2 separate regions of the Homo sapiens genome follow, and region 2 is linked to region 1. The links come from fine-mapping of genetic effects on gene expression. Tissue or cell type: lymphoblastoid cells. Region 1 holds a variant in brackets; the other region holds the start of a gene. All regions are shown on one strand. Distances are between the middles of the regions.

The links. PIP is the estimated chance that this variant, and not a neighbour inherited with it, causes the effect. A credible set is the group of variants that fine-mapping cannot tell apart.
Region 2: OR2G6 starts here. The variant in region 1 is the best candidate, but not a certain one, in a credible set for the expression of OR2G6 in lymphoblastoid cells (GTEx, PIP 0.59).

Annotation. Positions count from the first base shown.
Region 1 is chr1:248,480,713-248,487,250 of GRCh38, forward strand. It overlaps LOC105373279 (a long non-coding RNA gene), which reads right to left and starts at 1,349. Exons shown (of 3, transcript XR_007067006.1): 1 at 1,215-1,349. It overlaps LOC105373277 (a long non-coding RNA gene), which reads right to left. Exons shown (of 3, transcript XR_002958498.2): 3 at 3,909-4,772. The variant C/T (reference allele first, on the strand shown) is at 2,537.
Region 2 is chr1:248,504,380-248,512,487 of GRCh38, forward strand. It overlaps OR2G6 (olfactory receptor family 2 subfamily G member 6), which reads left to right and starts at 3,694. Exons shown (of 2, transcript NM_001013355.2): 1 at 3,694-4,050. The region is part of intron 1 of LOC105373277 (a long non-coding RNA gene); the gene reads right to left.

The DNA of each region.
Region 1 (6,538 bases):
CCTATTCTGAAAAAGAGAAATTGGAAGTTAAATAGAAGTCTTAGAGCCAAAGCAAACTTGAGCCTGGCAGGGCAAGTTTCGTTAGATTTCAGGACTTGAGGTCCTCTTTGGCTTGATATCCTGACCTCCAGTCCATAAAGGTGGTGGCCCCTCTTCCTTTGTTCTGTGCATGTATCTTGCATTTCTTTATATCTCTGATGGTGCCTTCAGGATCATTTACAAAATGTTTGACATGTTTTATATATTTATAGTTTAATTCTTAAAATGTTATTTTTGTTTTTATAAATATTTTCTCAGTTTACATTTAAAATGTAAAAAAAGTAGAACTTTAAGCAGGGTTTCCACCATAAATATTAATGTTGAAAAAATATATATCAATAGCTTTTCTGTCACTGTTAATGCTTTTTAAGTATTTTTAAATGAAAAATATTCTCCAAAAAATTAAATTATAAAAATCTCAGAATCTCAATTATTGTGGAAGAATTTTATTAAAATTACTTTAAAATCCAGACCCGACCTCTAAGTATTTGGATATCTCTGTGAGACCTATTGTGCTTGTTTATAAAAATCTGCAACATTTTAACAATATCAATTCTTCCCAAATGTATTTCATTGTATTCTAATCAATACAATTAGTTAGAACTTTTGAACCTAGCCAAATAGATCAACTGAAAGGAAAAACAAACTTAAAAACTTGCTTATTTTGAACATGAACATACATGAAGACAAGAATTGTTTCACTAGTTGTTTAAAATTATCATGAGGGGACACCCAATAAAACAAGATATTTTAAAGGAATTCAGTGAAAGACCAATGGAAAAGAAGAGATAATGTGGAAACCTAGCCTCCCCTGCACTGGCTTCTGGTATAAGATGTTGACCCTCCTTCCTTGTGTGATCCCGTTGTTTCCTCCACACACCCTGGTTCTCAAAACCATGATTTCAGGACTGCCTTCTCTTATGACCTCTGGATTCGTGTATACACTAGCCTTGCATCATCTTCATGTAGATGTGTACTGGGCAACTGGAGTCCCAAATTTCAGTTTCAGCGTTCCATGCCAACCTGCCCAGCCCCAATATTCCTGTGTGTATAAACGGCAATCCAACTTCACCTCCTCCACCACACCCCTTGCCCAGACACCATATGTCTCATCAGGACTAGCTCAAACCCTTTCCTGCATTCTCGCTCAAGCCTTCTCAGTGATAATCATATACCTGTTCCAAATGTCTTTCCTCTCTGTCCGTCCTCCAGTGATATCTCAGAGTGGGATTCACCGAGAAGCAAGGAGAGTCAAAGCTTTGGGGCCCTTCACTCTCTGGAGATTCTCTGAGTGCTGTCTGTTGCTGGGAGTTGTATGGTGGGGTGGGGTGGGGAGGGGAAGCCAGGCTACAGTCAGAACAGACTGTGAGCATGCCTGGTAAACTTCCTGAAGAGTTCTTAGAAGACAGGGGCCAAACATTGGCTGAGACTTCCTTTCTTTTTCTAAGTGCACATGCACTCTCTTGAGTGCCGTGTATACTTTTGTCTTCCCTTTCTTAAACACACCTCTGCCTGTCCCTGGTCCTTCTCAGGACCATCATGATTTTATAGGACCGGTTCCTTGGTTCCACTTCTAACCCCATTTTCTGTTTTGCCAACTTTCTCACCTCAGTCTGGGGCCACAGATCTTCTTGCTGCTGTTCAAACGTTGCAAGTTACTTTCAGTCTCACAGCTTTTAACTTTCTCTGTTTCCTCTGCTTAAAGCATCTCTGCCCCGTTGTTTACGAGTGACTCCATTGTTTCATTTACGGATCTGATGAAATTTCACCTTCTAAATAAAGGGCTCCTAACTAGCCTGTGTTAAATAGATTCGCTAATCATTCCTATCTCATCTCTCTGCCTTTATTTTTTATTTACTGTGATTATTAATACTTGACATTTCATTACATATTTATTAGTTTATTGCCTGTATTTACCACTAGTATATAAATGCTGTGTGGGAAGAATCTTTGTTTCAAACATCATAAACCTAGATAGTGCCTGGAACAAACAGTTACTAATTATTTTTGAAATTAATGAATAAAAGAAAATACCATTCAACATTGGAATTTAATTTTAACTTAAAAGCAATAATGTTAGCAATTCACTGCATATCACACCCAAATAAATTATTTTTGTATTATAACTCAAAGGTACCAAAAAAACCTCTGAAACTCATTAAAAGTGTAAAGGTAGATGCTTTACATAATCCCCAAATGCATAAAGACTTTGTAAGCACAAAACAGTTAACGAAATTATTAAAGTTAATATATTAAACAAAATACTTTAAAAAATTCTGATGACACAAAATATCAGAATGAAACTGAAATAAAAATATTTTAGTTGATACTATTCACAAAGAGTTACTATTTTTTTTCTTTTCTTTTTGAGACAGAGTTTCACTCTTTTTGCCCAGGCTGGAGTGCAATAGCGTGATCTTGGCTCACTGCAACTTCTGCCTCCTAGGTTTGACTGAGTCTCCTGTCTCAGCCTCCCAAGTAGCTTGGATTACAGGCA[C/T]GTGCTACCACACCAGCTAATTTTGTAGTTTTAGTAGAGATGGGGTTTCACCATGCTGGCCAGGCTGGTCCCGAACTCCTGACCCCAGGTGATCCACCCACCTCGGCCTCTCAAAGTGCTGGGATTACAGGTGTGAGCCACCGCATCTGGCCAGTTATTATTTTCATACCAAAAACACATTTATATTTATGAAGAAAACATTTCAATAGAAGCAGTAGTTACATGGATAAACATGAAAAGTTATATAAACATATTAATTAAAAAAGACAAATAATGATACACCTATGAAATTGACCAAGAAGGAAAAGCACACATAATTCAGAGCTGGTGCAAGTGAAGTTTAATTCTGCAGCAAAATTTGAAGAGGCTTTTGGAAAAGTAATTCAATGTTGTATATTAAGAAGTGTGAATCACCGTATATCAAATGGTAGATTGTCTCAGGGAAAAACTGACATTCAGAGTGTATTTTTTGTATAATTAGTTTTATTTCTGCATAATTTATAATGTTGAAATTTTTAATGTCACTATTCACTCTTAGGAGAAGATTGCAATTGTGATATAATTACTCTGATAGATATTAACTCCAGTAGATACTGTCCAGTCATATACGAACACTACATATTGCAAACCGAAGAGATGTAACACAGAAGATTGGTTAGAGGTGGCAAAGGGTTACAGGGAAGGCTGGAGAAGTGGGCAGGGGAGTGTTGTCATCCAAGGACCAAGAGTCCTCACCACTGGAGCCCCATGTGCCCCTCACTGCTGAGCTGATGGGAACTCTGCACTCCAGGGCTGCTGAGAGAACCCTGCCCTGGTGATGTGCAGCAACCCAGATGCCTGCATCTCCCCAATACGACTGAAACTGCCTCTCAGGTGCTGAAGTCTGAGGCCCCCCATGGTCCCTGTTGCTTATAGCTGCTGACCCACACCCCCATCAGAAACGGAAAAAAGTAGTTTACTTCTTCCTCTCACCCTGCAGTGTCCACCCACAAGGGCCTGCACTCTCAGAGCCTTACGAAAAGTGAAGTAGCAAAGAAGTCAGGACAAACCACGTGCAGGCTGCAGCACTGTGGGTCAGAGACTCCAGCCCTCAAACGTGCACCTAAAAACAGGACATTGTCTAGACAAAGGTGGTCATGAAAAGACCTCCATGATGTAGGAAAATGATCAACATTTTTCCAGAGCACGTCTTTAGAGAAAAGTTCAGAGGAATTTGGCTGCAAGATCTAAGATGGCGGTGCAGTTTCTTCTGTCTTCTTCCCTGTTTTATTCCAACAGCCTAATACAGGGTATACACTCAATGAATATTTGTAGTTTAAAGGGAAGATATAACATGTAAAGTATCATTTTTGTCTGGTTTATTACATTAGAGTCGATTTTAAAATTTTTATTCAACCAGTTTTACTTTAGATTTTTCTATGACTTTAATGACAGTATTTAAAACAAAAACAAAGATAAAAATCAAATGCAACACTAAAGCAATAAAGATTGCAAGTGAGTGAGAGGGAAACAGACTACAATCGGTCCTAATGAAGAGGGAGAAAGATGAAGATATGAAGATGACTCCAATTTTAGTTTTAATCAAGGTACTGATTTGTGGAGGTATCTTTGACACATCAGTTGACCTCTGAGTTTCAGATTCTATACCTGTGAAATGTTAGAATAAAAATAACAATATCTTACAACATTTACTTGAATATTAAATGAAGATCACACATATATATGGAATATATTTTATAATGTGGAAAAGGCTAAGGCTGTATATGAACTAACTCCTACATTTCATAAATAAGATTTTGATGATGATGAGATTTGAGATTACTATTACTAATATTGGTTAAAAGTTTGCATTTCATAACAGAGGTAAAAATTGTAAAAGCTATTAGAAGAAAACCAGAATTGTTCAGGAGAGATACCTACTGACTTCTTTAGCTCTCTTAATTGCATTCTTCTTCAACTCCCAGAGGTGATGTATCAACCGAAAGCTTTCAACCCCTCCCCTAGTGCACACGGTAAAACCAGGCAGGTCACTTTCTTACTCCTGTTGGTGCTCTTAACCTGGCCACACACCACCAGCCCATCTAGGTGAGGTTCAAGACATCATCTGATGGTGAGTTCAGCCAGACAGACAGGAGGTACTAGCAGGAAGAAAAGGGTCATCACTGCTCTCGACTTGTTCTGCTTCTGAAACGTTCTATTAGTTCTTCACAGCATTTCCTCATTTTTTCTTTATCATCTGTTTTTAATGGAGAAAAGCAAATGTTATTCTTTCTTATAACTTCTATACAACACTTATTTACTGTGACATAATGGTAAATAGATTTTTAATTTCCAATTATTTATGGACATAATAATATATATTCTATAGTTTTAGATTTTCATACAATGATGTATTTATTTTCCTGTCACTGAAGTTTTATAGAGGAAAAGTGACTGATTTTCTTTTGAGAGGGGATGATTTCTGAGGGTTACAAAACACTAGAAACAATGTCTCAATCATTTTATGTTTCTTTGATGAAACCCACAGACAGTGGCCTAAATCCAAAGTGTAGACTGCAGAGGGAGGATGGTGTCCCTGAGAGGAATCAGGCAGAGTTACGTGCGCTGGCTCTCTCTCTCGGGCTGAGACGTGCGTTCTATCTCAGGTTAGGTGTGTGATATTAGGCAGGTACCCTGAGAACCTGCATTTTTTAATATGTAAAGAGAGAAAATAATAGGAAGTAACTCATAGGCTCTTGGGAAAGAAGAAATGTAAAGTATTAATTTTAGTATTAGTATTAGAACAATTCCTGGGATGCTGTATGCTTCAAATAAAGATTTGACTCCATTTATACTTACAATAAATCCCCAAGTTAAACATGCATTAAGCAATTTACATGAAAGTCAAACAAGCGGGTACAGAAGAAGAATGAACAGGGGGCCAGTTCACTGTGTGTGGATAGTGTTCCCTTATCTGTCCCGTGTCCTGGTTGAGCTGTTGATAGTGGCTTAATGATAGTGGCTTAATGATAGTGATGGCCATTTCCTAAAGAGCAGCAGAGATTTCTTAGGAAACCCCGCATCTCCCTGCCCTCCTGCTCCCCCTCAATTTACTGAGCAAACACCTTTTAGGTCTTCACATGTGCTGGTCGCTCCTCTGGTCCTTGCTTCACTTTGGCCACAAATAATGGACGAGGTCAGCAGGTGTGTTTTGCAGTTTATTGGAATGTTTTTAAATTGTACACAGATCTCAGCCACCATTTGCCAGTAGGGGTAGTGTTTGATACACATTATCTATCTATCTATCTATCATCATCATCTATTCATATATATACATATGTACATAAAATGTGTCTCAGATTTGTTGGATATTTATATTAAAGCACCGAAGCATCCCAGAATGTTGGAAGTTTTGGTGAGTTGAATGTCTTAAATACTTTTTGTAATTACTACAAGAATACAAAATATATTTGAAACTTGTAAATTCATTCCAAAATGTCCCTGCATCATAATCACAGCTAAAGTCTTCCCAGAAAGAGGAGTTATTATGTCCTTATTCTTGGCAAGGGCTCTCAAAATTTAACATTTAATATGTCAGAAGTTGAAAAGTTGGAAAGTTTTAATTTCTTTCAGAGAAAATGTGGAAACAGCTATTATGGATTATTTCAGAACGGCCAGATATATTTTGTGTCTATTGCCCTTATTTATTTTGTAACTATTTAAAAATTCAACTTCAAATCACATTTACATAATAGTTGTTCCCTGAATAGACTGACTGTGACCTCCTTAAGTGCACTCAAGTTCAATTTTTCTTTGATTCATCTTCTGCATATAACACAGAGGCTGTGAGTATCATGATAGAGAAGGAAACAGTGAGTTGAAGTCAGAGGCGATTCATCGTCAGTATAACACAGGCTGTGAGTGTCACGGTAGAGGGAGAAACAGTGAGTTGAAGTCAGATGCCTCAGTGTTGTTTGATTTTCCTCCCTGCTTCTCAGTTTGTATGAAAGATTGATTGTGGCA
Region 2 (8,108 bases), 24 kb after region 1:
TTGTCTTCTTTTACCTACATTATCCCAATTTGTCTACTTCCCTGACTCTGGCAACTGCCCTTCAACTCCCTATTTATCTTACTCAATTTCCATTTATTTTACACATAAATGAGCTCATGCTGCATTTTTCTTTCTGTGCCTGACTTGTTTCACTTGGCATATTGTACTCCATACTTTAAAATTTATTAAGCTTAAAGAATTAAACAAGTAAGCTCTAGTTGCCTAAGAAGTTAATGTACCCAGAAATATAAATTTCTCAACAATCATGGAAAATGTGTTACAACTATATCTTCTTTCAAGTAGGTCTTGTAAATATTTTCTGTATTAATACTGACTATGCTCTCGTTTGGTTGTCATTCTATTCTGAGTTTTTAACCCTCTTGTTTAACCCAATCTCTCCTCCTCAAAAATGAATAAATGCATTGACTCAAGAAACATTTATTTTTGAGCGTCTGTTTTGGAATAGGTGCTATATTTTAGGCATTGGAAAGACACTAGTGATAAAAATGGTAAAATGCTTTATCTCCTGGATCTTACATTCTATGGTAGAGAAGAGATAATAATCGCAAAAAAACTATCAGGAATGATAAACATTATAAAGAAGAGTAAAATAGGGTGTGTAGGAGATAATTACTGTTTTATATTCACTGCTCAGAGATGTCTTCTCTGATAATCAAGAGAGCAGAGAAGAGAGACCTAAATCAGTTGAAGAAATGGGTCACAACGTATCGGAAAAGAGACCACCAGGCAGAGAGAATAGTAATCTTTTTTTCTTTATTCAGTGTATTAAATGCATTGTGTTTATTGATATACCCCATTAGTTTAATCATATTCCCTCACACTTTGTTATTACCTTTATTTTAATTGCCATTTTTAAATTTTTGTGATGAACAAATAAAATTGTATATATTTATCATGTACAATGTGATATTTTAAAATATGTATATTGTGTGGAATGGGTAAATTGAGGTAATTAACATATGCATCACCTCACATACTTATAATTCTTTGCAGTAAGAAGACAAAATCAACTCTTTGCCTTTATTTCAAAATTATTTCATTGTGTGGTATTTAATATTTTCTATTTAACAAAATGTGTATATTATGTACAAATACCTATGCATAAAACATATTTTATAAGACTAAAATATCCTTAATTTCCCTCTCTTTACACAGTATCTACTAGTTTCCTAGCATAAGGAAGAACAGAAAATATTTCAGAAGATATGTCTATTCTCCTTTCCTTCATCATTCAATTGTAGCCAATATGTTTACACTAGTGCTTATCACTATTTCTTTACACTTGCTTTTATATTTTCTCCATCATCTTTATTATTTTACAATCACTCACAAGCCACGGAGCAGCCATTCAGCTTCGTCCCCATCACTCCCTTTAAATTCTCTCCTGACTCAGGGTGATTCCCATTTCACATCTTTCTGTTGGCCGATTGTCGTCTCTTTTTAGTGGGTCATCAGTTCTCTGAACCGTCATATTTCTGTTTTAAAATGTTTTCTCATTTATAAAACTGCTTTATTAAGGATTTGGGGTTGTAGAGTATTTGAAGTTTATATCAGTATTTAGCTCCGATTTAAGGCAATAATTTTGGGGTAGATTTATTTTTTTTCTATAGTATTTTTGGAAAGACGTTGCATTTTCTAATTTCATTTTTAAGAATTTGATTTGCCTTTCCAGTTGTTACCAGGTGGATTGCATAGGGCTTGCAGGCATTGGGGAATATTCTTGTTTCTCAAGCCCTACAGCTTCATTGTATGCATTCCTGCTGTCTTCTCCATGTTCATTTCTACCACCTTCCTATTCGTGGTTATGCCTGGGATGGTGACCCCCTTAGTTTAGGCAAGATTGTCCTGTTATCTCCACCACTTCTTTCCCAGGTATACTCCCTGCATCTATCTCTTCAATAATCCTCAGATTGCTACCTGGCTCCGTGTTCATCAGGCTTGGGTATAGCAGTTTACACTTGTGAGAGGACCCTCTCCTTCTTGGGGAATAATATTTCCTGGTATTTTTTATCATTACCACCACCAGTGACCTTGACTGGGTCTCTTCTCTGCCGGACTTCCTGCTTCCAATATGGAGTTTCTGTACCAATTCTGATGAGTGTCCGTGACTTTCTTCCCCTTCCTTACATGTAATTTATAGTTGATGGATTGCCTTTGTCTCCTGATTTCAGTGAAGGAATCATTTGTGCTTTTTTCATTTTTTTTGTCTTGGATGTTTATTATATCATTGGAGAATTAAAGTAGGATAAAAAGATTGGAAGACTATCTAAAAGTTTGTATCAGCAACTAGGACTCCCTTATGTATGTTTGAACAGTTTTGTTCTGTTTGCTTTTGTGAGAAATGAGATGAATTGATGTGCAAAGTGTTATTAGTTAGGGTGCCTCAATATAGGCCCAGGAAACATTGGAACACCAAAATGGATGGAGCAGACATGAGCAGAACACAAAAAAGAAATAAACAGCAATATGATAATAGTAGGGGATTATAATACCCCACTCTCAACACTCATAAACAACAAATGGACCCAAAAATAAAGACAATTTAAAAATATCCTGAGACAAACAAAAATGGACAAATAACATACCAAATCATGGGGTACAGCAAAAGTAGTTCTGATAGCTACTGAGACAGAGAGAGAAATGATCCCAAATAAGCAACCTAACTTGGCACTCTGGGAATTAGAAAAGAAGAAAAAAGCCAAAAGTTAGAAGAAAGAAGAAAGTTATAAAGGTTAGAGCAGAATTAAACAGATAAGAAAGACAAAAGAAAAGATCAGTAACACGAGGAGTTGGTTCTGTAAAAACGTGAGGAAAATTGGCAAACCTTTAGGTAGACAAACCAAGAAAACTAAGAGAGATGACTCAAATAAAACTATAAGTAAAGCAGGAGAAATTAGTCAATACTACCAAAATACAAAGGGTCATAAGAGATTATCATGACCAATTATGTCAATAAATTGAGTAACGTAGAAGAAATGGATAAATTCTTAGACATGTATGTCCTGAAGAAAGAATAAACCTGAACAAATTAATAACTAGTACAGAGATTAAATCACCAATAATAATAATAATAAACTTAAAAGTTCAGGACTTGATGCTTTTACTGGTGATTGCTACCAAATATCTAAAGACAGATTAATGCTATTCTCAAACTTTTCCAAACAATTAAAAAGGGTGCACTTTCCAACACATTTTTTCATGCATTACCCTAACACCAATGTCAGACAAGGACGGTATAAGAAAATTACAGGCCAATTTATTTTATGATCATGGATGTAAAGATTCTCAACACTAGCAAACTGAATTCAATATGTTCAAAAGATCATTTAGTTGAATGTTTTCTTTCTTCTGAAATTCTTCATTTTGCTTCCAAATGTCATTTTTCCTTATATTTTATTTTTTCATTAATCAAATTTAATTTTAAAATTTCCAACTAAAAAAATCTGTGGGTTTAATAAACATATTTTTAATTAACATTTAAAAAAAGCACAAGTTTGTAAATTGTATATTTTCTGTCCATTAGATTTTGGTTTGAGTATTGGGCCAATTGCACGGTAAGCTTTTTAATTTTTTTCCAGAAGTAATCCCAGGACCTTAAATCTCCACTGAAACTCTCGAAGTTTAATTGGTCAGCTGGGATTGTAGTCCCTGGGGTGTTGAAAGCATAAATAAGCCATACCTTAAGTCTGGACCATTTATCCCTGTAGGGAGTCCCTCTTCTCCTCTGTTCTCTTTCAGAACTACTTATTACTTTAGGTTCAGTGTATGTAGCATATGGTGACTCTATGGGTTTCAGTTTTCTGAACCCCAAATATGCAAAAATATAGAAAAAGCAGACCAGGCATCCCACCTTCTGTGTGCCACTAAGGGAGCATCTCTTCCTCTTTCTCCCCTAATAAGTTGTATATTATTTTCTCAGTATTTTAATTTTTTGCTATTTATATTATCTGAGATTTATCATTGGAATCATACAAATATTAAACCAGGAAAGATCACCCAGGAAGAAATTGAGATCACCCACAATATCAGGTATTCTAAAACATGTTATATGAAAATTGTAATAATTAAAACATGAATCACAAATCTTGCAGGTAGAAATGTCAACATATTAATTTTTTTGAGGAAGAGCAACTTGGATGAATATATGGATGTAAACTTGCTGATCAACTACAGCCAAAAATTACATTGTAATTGTAACGTGTCCCTAAACTTGACCCATTACCAATCCTGATAAGTCTGTGCTTAGGATTATGTAGATTTTCAAAGGATTGAAATGTAGTTGCCTTTTCCAAATCTTGACTAGCTTGTCTGACAAGGTAGGATCATGTCAAGTAGATTGGACTGAGGTGATCCCTTTATTTTAAAGAGCAGTCTTTGGCAAACACTGATACTAGAAACTGATATGATTTTGCTCTTGTTGAAGAATTTTACTTATTATAAATGTTTTTTAAAAACAAGGGAAGGAAACATAATCTTAAAACCACTCATTTGTGTCCATCCACATTATACTGTAGAGAAGACTGACTTTTTTTTCCAGGTGATTATTGTAGCAAAACATTTTAAGTTTTATTGAGATCGTTTGTCATGTCTAAATTTGTTCATCATAATATATCCTGAGCTTAGTTCAGTGCCTGGCTCATGATAAATTTTATTTATTTAGTGTGGTGAGAGCACTTAACAGGAAATTTACCCTCTTACACTTTTTCAGTGCACGATTCAGTACTGTGAACTCCAGGCACGGTGCTGCACAGCCAATCTCTAGGACTTCATCTTGTGTCACTGAAACCTTATACCCATTGCACAGTAGATCAAGAGAAGAAATACTTGATACACGGCACAAGACCTATAGAACACGCAGGGAAAACTTCTTCTGGCATCAGAAAACCTGTTCATTGCTGAGTTCATTCATTATATTCACCTCCTTACACCACAATGCTAACCCATGAATCTAACTGGCTGTGACAAAACTGTCTTTCATAAACCTACAGACTTTAAGATTTATGGAAAGAGAAAGACCTGTGGCATCCTAGAATTCTAACATCCACTCTTGGATCATCATGACCACTTAGCAGAGCTTTGCATTGAATTCCAGATAAAGAATATCAAACTCAAGGATATAGCAGCTCTTGAATAATGGGAAAGATAAATGAAGTGTTTGGCAAGTAGAAAGATAATCATGAAGTTCAGTCATTAAAGTCTCGCCCTGAACAAATGCCATGGACTTGACATCATAAAAAACATAAAATAGGTATAAGTCAAAAATGTTTATTTTGGGAAATTATATTTAAATCAAAATCAAAAATATACTCATCTGAAAGACAACAGAAAGTTCTGTCACCAAGGGAAATAAAACTCTAATTACCAAAACAAAATGTAAACAAAATAAAACTTACATAAATATATACATTCATGCATTCAAAAGAAGTTGCATAGAATTTTATTTAGCCATATCTCAGTATTTTGGAATTTTGCAAACACCAAGAGTCGCAATAATAATACATAATCTTCGTCTCTCACTCTGTTATTTTTTCCTCAAGCTTGGGAAAGATAATGTGTGAGTGGATAGAGTGATTCTGGGGATCGGGATGAGACAATTCTGCTTAAGGCAACTTCTCTTAGGATGGCAGGAGGTAGCAAGAGAAGAAAGGGCAGAATAACCATTACAGTTTACACCATATTTATAGCTATAATGCCTTAATATAATATGAAGTAATTACTTTCAATTACTTTTTAATAACAGAGATATATACAATATATATTCTTTAAAATGGTTATCTAAAAGTTTAAGAAATTAAAAAACCTTAATCTTAGAAATTATCTAGAAATTTAAATTTCTGAATTATAGGTAAATGTGTTATGATTTTCTTTTTTCAAATAAGCCTTACAAATATTTTCAATATTGATACTGTTTCATTTTAAATGTGCCACTAACATGATGCTGTCATTTCATTGTCATTCTAGCAGTAAGGATTCTGAGTCCTTAGCACTCTGTTTGACCCAGCCTCTCCTTCCAGGAAATGACTAAATATACTCATTCAGAGCATATTTATTTTTGAGCATCTACTTTGGGGCTACCACTGTGTTAGGCTTTCAGCACACAGCAGTGATAAAAATGAGCAAAATGTCTCATCTTATTAATATGACACTATATTGTGGAAAAGAGAAACAATTGTAAAAAATATGTTCAAGATTGTTAATTTTATGAAGAAAAATAAGACAGCATAAGGGACAGATCAGTCATTTTTATTCATTGGTCATTGAAATCTTTTCTGATAATCGAATAGCACAGAAGAGACCTAAAAGAACTGAAATAATGGGTTCTAGTGTATCTGGGGAAAACGACTCAAGGTAAAGGGAACCATCATCTTTTTCAGATGGCACTCAGAGCCATAAGAGGTTCAGATAGATCCACCCAGCAGTGAGTGCAGTGGGTTTTTCTAGGCAGAAAACACAGAAGAAACATCAAGAAATCACATGATTGGCTTGCCATGTCCAAGTCCTTTTCTAATTTTGTTTTTCTTTTTAAAGCATATTTTTTGCCTGCTACCATGACTTGTAATTTTTGATGATGTTGTTGAAAGCTGATGTATTCATTTGCTATGCGTACCATAGCATTCTGGTAGTTTGATGACAACCTTTGGCATTCCTTGGCTTGAAGTAGCATTACTTCAATCTATTCCTTTATCTTCAAAAGATAATATTCCTGGGTGCATGTCCAACTTTTTTTAAATAAGGACACCAGTTTCAAAGGTAAAGCCCAGACACTGGTTAAGGTAGTGAGGACAGATTTTAATTAGTAACATATTTTGGGGTATTTGTGGGTTTTTCACCTAAAATGTAATCTTACACAGGCTGTAGATTATATCTCTGTTTCCAGGAAGCCCCGTGTGTTGCTTTGTGTGTGCATCAGTCTCTCGAGAACCCCCTGTGAATCAGGAGGCATACGTTCCAGTGACTATAGGGAGTCGAGGGGCTAAAGAGGTAAGTGAAACATCTGGTAGGGGTAAAAGGATGGGTATATATCAAAAGTCAGGGGTGTTTAATGGAAAAGAGGTGCATATCAAAGTGTCAGGGGAGTTCAATGGAAAAAGTTAAGATGGTAAAAGAAAGAAGGAAAAAAGAAGGAAATGGGAAGGGAGCAGTCCTATAAGAGCCACTTTAGGCAGATCTTAAGATTTTCAAATAAACCATTGCAGTTCCGAATTATCCACAGTAAAGTCATTTTGCCTAAAATAGAAGCAGACATGGTTAGTGTCATAGTATATATAGAGAGTAGGAACCCAAAAGGGGTTTAACTGTGGAGTTCCTGTGGGAAGAGTAAGTTCAAATAGAATGAAGAGGTCTCACAAGAAGCCAGAGTGAACATTCCAGCACAGGAGTTAGGAAGTGAATTCCCACTGAAAACAGGGAGCCAGGAAGATAAACAGCCAGCCCAGGAGATGTCTTTCAAAAGCAGCCTGGAATTATAACCCAGCCTTAGAGACTACAGCCAGAAACATAGGAAGAAAATATGTCCTCGCCATGCCTCAGTGCAAATTTCTACACAGTGTTAGGCCAGAAGTTGAACTCGCCACCAAATACCCAAAAAAGTAAGTCAACTGAAGATCAGACAAAGGTTTCTACGCATGCAGAAAGGATTGACTGTTTTGTCCAAGGGCCAGATAAGGGTTCCAATCTGGATTTGAGTTCCAGTGCCAGATAACTGTCAAGACAAACAAAATGGAAAACTGGTTAAAGAGGTAAGAACGTGCTTTAACTAGTCATATACTATTGAAACAGGCAAGAGTTCAGCATGAACTTAACTTTGATGTATCCAGGTTGAGGAAAATGTTAAAGGGAGTTTGAGGAAAGAGAAATGGGAGTTAGTGGGGGCTCAGGAGGGTCAGGGATGTGAGAAATTACAAATCGTGAGAAGGGGGGAGTTGGTTCCTGTGAAACCCATTTGCTTTGTTAACTGATACTTGCTGATGTTGGGCTTCTACCCTCCCACAGAGGTCAGGAGACACCAGGCCTATCTTCAAGTCTTGGCTGGGACAAGCATGCTATAGATTGTCTGTGTACTTACATAAGTTATATGTTGAAATCTT